Linked DNA regions of Homo sapiens: region 2 is linked to region 1. The links come from fine-mapping of genetic effects on gene expression. A gene starts in region 1. The other region holds a variant in brackets. All regions are shown on one strand. Distances are from middle to middle.

The links. PIP is the estimated chance that this variant, and not a neighbour inherited with it, causes the effect.
Region 2: its variant is the best candidate, but not a certain one, in a credible set for the expression of MSRB2 in whole blood (TOPMed, PIP 0.65).

What each region holds. Positions count from the first base shown.
Region 1 is chr10:23,093,175-23,098,552 of GRCh38, forward strand. MSRB2 (methionine sulfoxide reductase B2) reads left to right here and starts at 2,405. Exons shown (of 5, transcript NM_012228.4): 1 at 2,405-2,552. The coding sequence starts at 2,435. LOC107984215 (a long non-coding RNA gene) reads right to left here and starts at 2,105. Exons shown (of 3, transcript XR_001747394.2): 1 at 1,646-2,105. RefSeq lists a silencer at 2,213-2,682.
Region 2 is chr10:22,561,816-22,567,193 of GRCh38, forward strand. All of the region lies in intron 6 of PIP4K2A (phosphatidylinositol-5-phosphate 4-kinase type 2 alpha), which reads right to left. It also overlaps the pseudogene TRP-GGG1-1. Among named protein-coding and RNA genes, the nearest start is that of LINC03027, 130 kb to the left of the region's middle. The variant T/C (reference allele first, on the strand shown) is at 2,358.

The DNA of each region.
Region 1 (5,378 bases):
TTCTATGTAGAAAATCTGATAAAATCCATAAAATGTTACTAGAACTAAGAAATGAGTTTAGAAAGATTACAGAATACAAGATCAATATACAAAATCTACATACTAGCAATCAGAAATTGAAATTGATAAAACAATACCACAGCATCAAAAATATGAAATGCTTTAGGATGAATCTATCAAAAGATGTGCAAAACCTATACAGTGAAAACTACAAAACACTACTAGTAGGTGTTAAGGAAGACCTAAATAAATAGATAGGCATATCTTTATTCATGGGTCAAAAGATTCAATATTGTTATGATATTAATTTCCCCCAAACTTATGGATAGAATCAATGCAATCCCAATCAAAACTTAAGTAAGATCATGTGTAGAAATTGACAGACTGAATCTAAAATTTATGTTGAAATACAAAAGACCTAAAATAGCCCAAACAACCTTAAAAAAGAACAGAGGTACAGTACCAATGCTAGCTGGTTGCAAGTCCAGTCATCAGGATATTGTAATATTGATGTAAAAATAGACAAATTAATTAATGGGACAAAATAGGAAGTCCAGAAATAGACACAACACATTGATAGGAAACTGATTTTTGACAGATTCAAAAACAGTTCAGTGGAGAAAGAGTAGTCTTTTAAAAATTGGTGCTAGGAGCCAGGCCTGGTGGCTCACGCCTGTAATCCCAGCACTTTGGGAGGCCGAGGCAGGCAGATTACCTGAGATCAGGAGTTCAAGACCAGACTGGCCAACATGGTGAAACCCCGTCTCTACTAAAAATACAAAAATTAGCCAGACGTGGTGGCACACGCCTGTAATCCCAGCTACTCAGGAGGCTGAGGCAGAAGAATTGCTTGAGCCTGGAAGATGGAAGTTGCAGTGAGCCAAGATCGTGCCACTGCACTCCAGCCTGGCCGACAGAGACTCTGTCTCAATCAATCAATCAATCAATCAATAAAAATGGTGCTGGAACAACTGGATATAGATATGCAAAAAACAAAACAGATAAACAAAACAAAACAAAAATTTTGGCCATATATAAAAATTCTAAATCGGTCAGAGACCTAAATGTAAAACCTAGAACTATAAAAATTTTAGAACAAAACATAGGAGAGAATCTTTGTGATCTTGGATTAGGCAAAGATTTCTTAAATATGATACCAAAAAAAGAACAATCCATTAACAAATTGATAAATTGGGCTTCATCAAAATTAAAAACTGCTCTTCCCAAGACAATATTAGGAGACAGAAAAGACAAACAAGAGACTGGGAAAAAAAATCTTTGTAAAGCATATGTTTGATAAAAGATTTGCATCCAAAATATATAAAGTGTTCTAAGCTCAATAATGAAACAACTCAACATTAAATGGGCAAAAGATCTGAACGGACACTTCACCAAGGAAAATACACTCGCTGCAAATACGCACATGAAAAGATGCTTAACATCATTAACGATTAGAGAATGCATAATAAAGCCACAATGAGCTACCACTACACAGAACCGGAACATCTACAGTTAAAATCTCTGGACTTTCAAGTGTTGGCAAGGATGAAGAACAACTGGAACTCGCATAGACTGCTAGTGGGAAGGTAAAGAAAAAAACCACTTGGGAAAACAGTATAGTAGTTTCTTAAATGGTTACACCTACCTTACGACCTGGGCATTCCACTTCCAGGTATTTACCCCAGAGAGGAAAAACCGTATATGTCTGTACAAAGATTTGCACAGGGATGTTCCTAGCAGCTGTAGTTCTAATCAGGAAAAATTGAAAGCAGGCTAAATCAAGTGCTGACTAAACACACGGTGGTATATCCATAAATGGAATACTGCTCAGGAAGCAATGAATGATTGTTCCATGCAAAAACACGCAGGCATGTCAAAGTAACTATGTTGAGTGAAAGAAGCCAGACAAAATCAAGTACATATGGGATGATTCCATTTATGGACGACTCTAGAAAATGCAAACTAAAACAGATCAGTGTTTGGGCTGCGGATGAGTGGAGTTGGGATAGGTGGAGGGGGGCAGGGCGAGGGAGGAGCAGGAGTGGGAGGAGCTGGGAGATGCAGAGATGGGTTGGGGAGGGTCTCATGGAAGGGAAGGGAGAGAGGAAGGGGGAGAGGAAGGGGGAGGAAAGGCAAGGGGAAAAGGAGAGGAAGAGGGAGGGGGAGAGAGAGGCAGAGTGGGAGGAAAGAGGGGCGGGGACCTGGGAGGGCCCAGGGCACATAGTGGGAGGAGCAGGTGGGAAGGAGGGAAGGAGGGAGGGGCAGGGGAGGGAGAAGAGGGGGAGGGAGACGAGGGGACTGGCGGTGTGGGCGGAGCGTGGGGAGGGAGGCCGACTAGCGCAGGCGGACGGGAGAGAATGGGGGAGGGGTGGGATGGGAGCAGGGGCAGAGACGGGCAGAGGGCAGAGGGCGGAGCGGCGCCGGAGCGGGCGTCATGGCGCGGCTCCTCTGGTTGCTCCGGGGCCTGACCCTCGGAACTGCGCCTCGGCGGGCGGTGCGGGGCCAAGCGGGCGGCGGCGGGCCCGGCACCGGGCCGGGACTGGGGGAGGCAGGTAGGACGCGGGTCCCGCAGGCCCCGCCGCCGCCTACGGCTTTCGGCTTCATTTCACCGGCTGCACCCGGGAGCCTAGGGCCGGTCCAGGCCGGGCGCTGCCCTCCTACTAAGCCCTCCTCGGCGCGCCCCTCCCCCCCCCCAGCCCGAGGATCTGGGACAGTGGATTGTAAACTTGGTGGCGGCAGGGTGGGGACTGACCCCTGTGAGAATCCGAGGAAATGAACAAATGATCCCCCTAAATGTGCGCATAATTTTTTTTTTCTTGGCTCGGGGAGTGGGGGCATAAGTGGGGCTCGGGGGCCTCTGACCCCTATCGGGGACTCCAGGCGAAGGCCCGGGGCCTGGGCTGTAGCAGCCCGGCCCGCGCGCCCCTGCGAAGGCCCCTAGTATTTTGCATTGCAGCCCTCTTCGTAGTTCCGCGGGCTTCCTTCCAGCATCTGAGAAGCAGGCAGTTCAGACTTGGGGTTCCTGTGAGTGTTTCCTGCCCTGCTGACTTCCCATAAATGTGTCTAAGAGCCAGGGAGACTGGGTTGATCATTTGTTCCTTCTTTAAGGTGACAGCCATTGTTAATGACTGAGACAGAGACCAGGGCGAGCCTGTGTGTGTGTGTCTCTCTCTCTCTCTGTGTGTGTGTGTGTGTGTGTTTCTGCTAAATACTTTTGGATCCTCTCTTGGATCTGGGTACCTGCACATTTCACCAAGCAGGAAGGAGTCACCTCGGGAGACCTGTGCCAGCTACCCCTGTATTTCAGTTCTATTTCAGGGTAACTTAGTGCCCCAGGGGATTGGCTTCCTGGGCGGTTGCCAGACTGACCCACTCTGAATCCAATTTTATATGTGTTCATTGAAGACATTCAGAGATACCCAACTGATGAAAATGTACCAACTCATTCTGAGCTCTTTTTAGCCCCTGAAGTTTTCGAAATGCAATATTGAAAGAATACGTAACTAAATAAAAGCGTTGGCGTTGTGGAATGTTAGCTCATCCAACTTGACTTCCAGCTATGGCCTTTCTAATCACTGGTGTCTCTAGTCAGTCTGATGACATTTGCTGTGAGCCTACTGTGTGCCAAGCATTGTATTGCTGAGAACCACAGGTGATAGAAACAGGTCACAGTTACCGACGAGCTCTCTATAACCCCTTGAAAAAGGATGGTGGTTTTAGCGGTAACTACTTCATGGCTGTAATTGCTGCTGTCAGAAGCAGCCTAATGAATTGCCCTGGGATCTGAAGTTCTCCAGCAACAATAAAATTTGGCCAGCCACCAGTAGGTAACAGGAGCTGTGTACCTTATCAGACACCCCTCCTGGGAATCTATTCGAAGGAAATAGTTCAAAAGAAGAACAAAGAGATATATGCAAAGATGCTTTAAGCACTAGTCTCTTACAAAATGGAAACTGGCTGTAACCCAAATCAGTTAAGAAATACTTACGTAAATCATGAAAATTCAATCCAACAAACTGTTAGGCAGCCATTAAAAATGATAAACGGAGTATTTCTGTGGTGAAGGGCTTGGGTATGAATAGATGCAGATTTTGAGTCTTGGCTCTCGGTTACTTCCTGGCTCTGTGTCTGAGCTCAGGCTGCTATTGCAAAACACCGTGGACTGGGTGGCTTCAACAACATTTTCTCACAGTTCTGGAGGCTGGGAAGTCCAAGATCAAGGTGGGAACAGATTTGGTTCCTGATGCAGACCTGCTTCCTGGCTTGCAGTTGACTGCCTTCTCACTCTGCCTTCAGGTGACTGTCTCAGGAAGGACCACTAATCCCTCAAGAGAGCCTCACCTTTATGATCTAATCTAAAACTAATAACCTCCCAAGCCCCACCTCCACATTCCATCTCATTGGGAGTTAGGGCTTTAGCATATGGGAGTGGGGAGAGGAGCAGGGAGAACATATAATATTCAGTTTGTAACAATGTCTTTGGACATGTTTCTTGAATTTGGAAAGTTTAAACTTCAGATTTTTTTTCCTTCTGTCAAATAAGGATAATGATAATGGTAGGGTTGTTGTAAAGAATAACTTTTTAATTAAATATTTTGTTACAATGCTTGACACTTAGGCACACAATAAATGTTAGTTATGATTACATAAATAAGTGGAAAGGACAAAAATGTAGCTACATTTAACTTACATCATGGGCTTCGGGAGTGTTGAGAGAGAGGGAGACATTGGGAGGGGGGAAATGAGAAGATATTGAAATGACAGTATTTTTTTCCAGTGCTGCAATTTCTCATATGCTTAGAGTGATTTTTTTTAATCCAGATTGACAAAGAGCAAACTGAAAAAGGAAAGTAAGAAATATTCTGGAGCAAAAAATCTGTTGCTTCAGGAAAATATTCTTTCTAGAGATGACTATGCTAGGAAACTGTCCTGGGCATAGGGTTAAAATAGTCCAGGCACTGGTGGGAGAGACTAGTTCTGCAGATCAGAATGGGCTGGGGATTCTTTTAATACCAGTTTCTAAAGAGTTCCATTAGATTCAACACATTATTTATCAAAATGGAGTGGGCTTATGTGTGACAATTGGCAGTATAGCAACTGTGGCCAGGAAGGTTAGCAAAACCCGAAGGAGGCACCCAGTAGGTGACCATAGGACCAAGAGTGGATTTCCTTAGGGATGAAAAAATCGAGGCCCACCCCGTAGAACTTCTGACCAACAAAATATATGGCCTGTGCAAATCACAGCACACAGAGAGAAGGGAACTCCAAGGAATTTGAGTTTATTAAGGCATAATTCAAAGTAAAGCTGTGTAGTTATCTCATGCAATAGCAGCAACCGATAAATGTTTTCATAGTGAAGATAGCAAGAGAATGTAGAG
Region 2 (5,378 bases), 530 kb before region 1:
CAGCCTCCCTAAAGTGCTGGGATTACAGGCGTGAGCCACCATGCCCAGCCCTCTAGAAAGATTGTTCTTTGTACCATAACGATCATTTGGAAAGGAATATAGTTATATATAATAGCAATGAATATAATATTCTTGCAAATCATTTCATTTATAAAAGGCTAAAATGTAGTAAGTGTTTTTAGCCTTCCCCAAATATTTCAAACCAGAGGTACCAGTAGATTGTTTTGATAGCATTTAGTAGACTGTTTTGATAGCATTTTCCCCCCCGATGTCTGATCATAAAAAGGAGTATTTATGATTTGTGAACACAATGAATGGTAGGCTTTTTGGAAGAGTCAAAAATCCTAACTGATCATGGAAAGAAAACCCAAAGGATGGCAGAAAAGGGAAAGCAAAGACTTTTTTTAAAAGTTAAAAAAACAAACAAACAATGTTTTTAAGAGTTCGGCTTGGCCGGGCGCGGTGGCTAATGCCTGTAATCCCAGCACTTTGGGAGGCCGAGGCGGGTGGATCACGAGGTCAGGGGATCGAGACCATCCTGGCTAACACGGTGAAACTCCGTCTCTACTAAAAATACAAAAAAATTAGCCAAGCGTAGTGACAGGCGCTTGTAGTCCCAGCTACTAGGGAGGCTGAGGCAGGAGAATGGCATGAACCCAGGAGGCGGAGCTTGCAGTGAGCTGAGATTGCACCACTGCACTCCAGCCTGGGTGACAGAGCGAGACTCCGTCTCGAAAAAAAACAAAACAGTTTGGCTCTATTAATACATTTCATTTCATCTATTACAGTTTAACAAACGTTTCTAGAGTCTACAAAACACTGCTGTATCAGAGAGAGAAGGCATGGCATGATCTCTACCGAGCCGTGAATGACGACTTTCCCCTGGGTTCGTTCTAGACGTGCTTCTCTTCTCGACACGCTCCTCCTGGGTGACCTCACCCACTTCCCTGTCTCTGCTGACCGTCCTTCCAGGGAGGATTCCCAAGCCCTTTGTTTTCAGCTAAGACACCCTGTGCACCCTCTCATGCCTATTGGATATCTCTGTTCTGACGCCACCCTGACATTTCAAATGCCTCCTCTCTCTCTAGTCTGGGTGATGTATCCCCAGGGAAATCGCTGGGGACGTGGTCGGTGACGGTGGGTGGGAGCCAGATTGCAGCAGGTGATGAAGTGAGGAGGAGAAAAGGAAATGGTGGATGTTTCTTTGGCCATTTGCCCTTTTACTGTGCATGAATGAAGGTACATTTTGATCTCTACCCTACTGTCAAGGCAGGCACACTCTCCATCATTTACCAATTTCTATGACTTTGACATTCCACATCTTCAAGCTATTTCCTTTTCCCCTTCCCAAGTGAGCATTTTTAATATAGAAGGGTGGGTGGGGTAGCTTTATGCAGCCTCTGTCTTCTGGAATAAGAGTTATTAGAAACCTCAACCACAAAAAGAAGGCTAGGGCACTGAATTCTTCCTCAGGGCAACTGTGCAGACAATTCTAATGTTTGCACAGTGTAAGACACGTGATAAAGACTGCATTAAACGTAAAAGTTTTACAAATATGTACATCTGAAAGTATGAGCGAAAATGCTCAAGCTCTTCAAATAGAGGAAATACAAATTGTTTTGCTAACATAGTATGGAAACAAATAATTTATTTCACTACTTTAGAAAAAAAATCAAGTTTTAGAATCAACTGTTTCAGCACCATATTTAACTCTGAAACAATGTTTTTGTCAATGTAGTTAACTTTTTCCTCATTTTCACAATGGGATTAACATGACTTTTTGATAATATGCCCTTAAAGGAAAGGAGAGACATGAACTCACAAACATTTACAAGGCAGTGTGGCATAGTGGTTAGAAATGTGCGCTCTGGGGCTGCTGATCCCAGGCTCAAACCCTGGCGCTGTCACTTCCTAACTGTAGGACCCTGGATGAAGTTACTAAACCTGTCAGTTAAGCAACTTCATCCACTCAAAGTAAGTAACGACAGCACCAATCTCATCTGGTGACTGTTAAGGATTACATGACATAATTCATGTACAATTTAAAACGGTCTGGCATATAGTTTGTACTCAACCAGTGCCAGTTGTGACTTCCTCTAAGCCTACCCCCTAGGGAGATGTTTGAAGGAATGATGGCTACGTGTTCATATTAGATACAGGATAAAAGCATCCTAGCAGAGTCCTAGAAAGATGAGTTCTCGGTCAAACAAATTCTATTATTCTCTTTTCATAGGAAGCTATACCAATAAAGGGACTAAACACTTTTTGGTGAGGAGGGCAGTGAACTGTGGTTCATGCCCTGGGTTTCTGGAAAGTGTGTTAAGTCCTATAGGTGCAACAGCGGAACGGAAGATAGG[T/C]AAGTGAATGTCCTGCTTTGCAGGAACCGTTACAGATACAGGAAGTCAAATACGTGTGGCTTTCCTCTCTGTGTGCCCTTGTTTTATGATTTAGGCCTCAGCAGCAACCACGCCATTAGCTGTAACTGTCCTTGTTGGCAGTGTTTACTGTCAGAGCAGGACCAAGCACTTGTTGACTGAACCTGAAGAAATCAAAATGAATGAAGGAAAAAAATCCTGCTAGTGGTAGTCCCAAGGAACTTTGGAAGAAAGTAAAAACAGACCCACCAACATGGGGCATCATGTGACTCAGGGGCTGGCCTGTCGTACGATGCTGAAGAGCATGTGTGACTCTGTACACACCCTGGCATTTCCTCTGAGGAGAAAATCTCAACAAAATTTAGCCTCTGAGCTTCTCATGGGCTAAAACTGAAATACCTGCTGAGTCTTCAGTACCTGGAAGAAACATTCACTCATGGCAGCATGGAAGTCGACAGTCACTGTTTCTGCCTCTTCTGGCCAAAGCCAGTGCCTTAGAGGGGGTTTAGGCGAAGGTTGAATTCTCAAAATGTACATTCACTGATGTACAGTAAAAGGGCAAATGGCCAAAGAAGCCTCCACCATTTTCTTCTCTCCTCCTTACCTGCTGCAATCTGGCTTTGGTCCCCACTCGCCCTCACCGACCAGGTCCCCAGCGATTTCCCTGTGGATATGTCCCTGGACAACTCTCCATTCTTACCCTACCTGGCCTCACGAAAGCATCTGACGCTGGGAAGTTCATTTCCTCTGGTTCATGGAAAATTACTAGAGTGAAAGTTTCATGAGGATGGGGACTGTATCAGCCTAGTTCCACGAAGCAGTTCTTACAATGCTTGGCAGAGTGTGTACTCATCACAGACAATCAATATCTGAGTGAGTGACCCAGTGTCTCCTGGCTCCTGTAAAAGGTGATGTTCTGCTGGGCTTGTTCTAGACATGCTTCTCTTCTCCACACACTCCTCCTGGGGGACCTCACCCACTTTCCTGTCTCTGCCAACCATCCTTTCAGGGAGGATTCCCACACTCTTTTTTCAGCTGAGAGCCACTGTGCAGCCTCTCATGCCTACTGGATATCTCTGTTCTGACGCCGCACTGACTGTTGGGGGAAGTCAGGGACCCCAAACGGAGGGACCGGCTAAAGCCATGACAGAAGAACGTGGATTGTGAAGATTTTATGGACATTTATTAGTTCCCTAAATTAATACTTTTGTAATTTCTTATGCCTGTCTTTACTGCAATCTCTCAACATAAATTGTAAAGATTTCATGGACACTTATCACTTCCCCAATCAATACCCTTGTGCTTTCCTATGCCTGTCTTTACTTTAATCTCTTAATCCTGTCAGCTGAGGAAGATGTATGTTGCCTCAGGACCATGGGATAATTGCGTTAACTGCACAAATTGTACAGCATGTGTGTTTGAACAAATACGAAATCTGGGCACCCTGAAAAAAGAACAGGATAACAGCAATTGTTCAGGGAATAAGAGAGATAACCTTAAACTCTGACCACCAGTGAGCCGGGCGGAACAGAGCCATATTTCTCTTCTTTCAAAAGCAAATGGGAGAAATATCGCTGAATTCTTTTTCTCAGCATGGAACATCCCTGAGAAAGAGAATACGCGCCTGGAGATACAGGCTTATAAACAGCCCCCCCAGGTGTGCCTGTCTCTTATGGTCGAAACTGCGGAGATGAAATAGACTTCAGTCTCCCATAGCGCTCCCAGGCTTATTAGGAAGAGGAAATTCCCACCTAATAAATTTTGGTCAGACCGGTTGATCTCAAAACCCTGTCTCCTGATAAGATGTTATCAATGACAGTGGTGCCCGAAACTTCATTAGCAATTTTAATTTCGCCTCAGTCCTGTGGTCTCGACCTGCCTCCACTTGCCTTGTGATATTCTATTAACCAGTTAAGTACTTGATGTCTGTTACTCACACCTATTCACACACTCCCTCCCCTTTTGAAAATCCCTAATAAAAACTTGCTGTTTTTTGTGGCTTGTGGGGCCATCACAGATCCTACCAACGTGTGATGTCTCCCCTGGACGCCCAGCTTTAAAATTTCTCTCTTTTGTACTCTGTCCCTTTATTTCTCAAGCCGGCTGATGCTTAGGAAAAACAGAAAAGAACCTATGTGAATATCGGGGCAGGTTCCCCGATAACTGACATTTCAAACTCCTCCTCCTGCTCTTGTTTGCTATTTCAGGGAGTGGAATGAACACCTACCTACCCAACTGCCTAAACCAGAAACTTGGGGGTCATCCTTAACCCCCTTCCCTCTACGCACACTCCCTGGCACCTCTGGCACTCAATCCCTCAGTTCTGTAGATTTGTCTTCCCAAATCTCTCTGTAATTCATCCACTTCTACCACATCCCAGCTCCGGCCAGCATCTTCTCCGGGCTACTTCATCAGCCTCTCTGACAGGACTGGCTTCCTTCCCTCTGTGGCTTCCTCTCTCCCTGCAGCAAATGCACCAAATACTCCCCACTCTGACTCTCATGCCCTTGCACCTGCCGCTCTTCCTCTGACTAACTCCTATTGATCCTTCAGGTTTCTGGACATCACCTCCTCCAGGAAGCCCTTCCTTGACCCTGCCCAGCCTGAGCCAGGCGCCCTTGCTATGTGCTCTAGAGCTCCCTGAGTGTCCTGTCCAAGTGTTCACCCCATGATAACATAATTTTCTATTTGAGGTCTGCATCCCCTGCTAGATCTTTCTGTGTGTCTTGTTATTTTAGCCCCTGAAGCTAGGATAGTAGCCACAAAAATATTCACAAACACCTCTGAATGAACAAACAAAAGTAGATTTGCAAATCTATAAAATTCAACTCAAAACTGCTATCAGTCTAAAAGAACAACTTTCAAACAACAATTTTGAGCTCTGTTTTCAAATGGAATAGTTAAGAAAAAGGCACTTCCCAAGGTGACAAGAAGGCATAACTAAGAGTATAGATGTACCCTTTATATAAGCATGTGTTGACTTGAGTTAGTTTAGGTTTACAT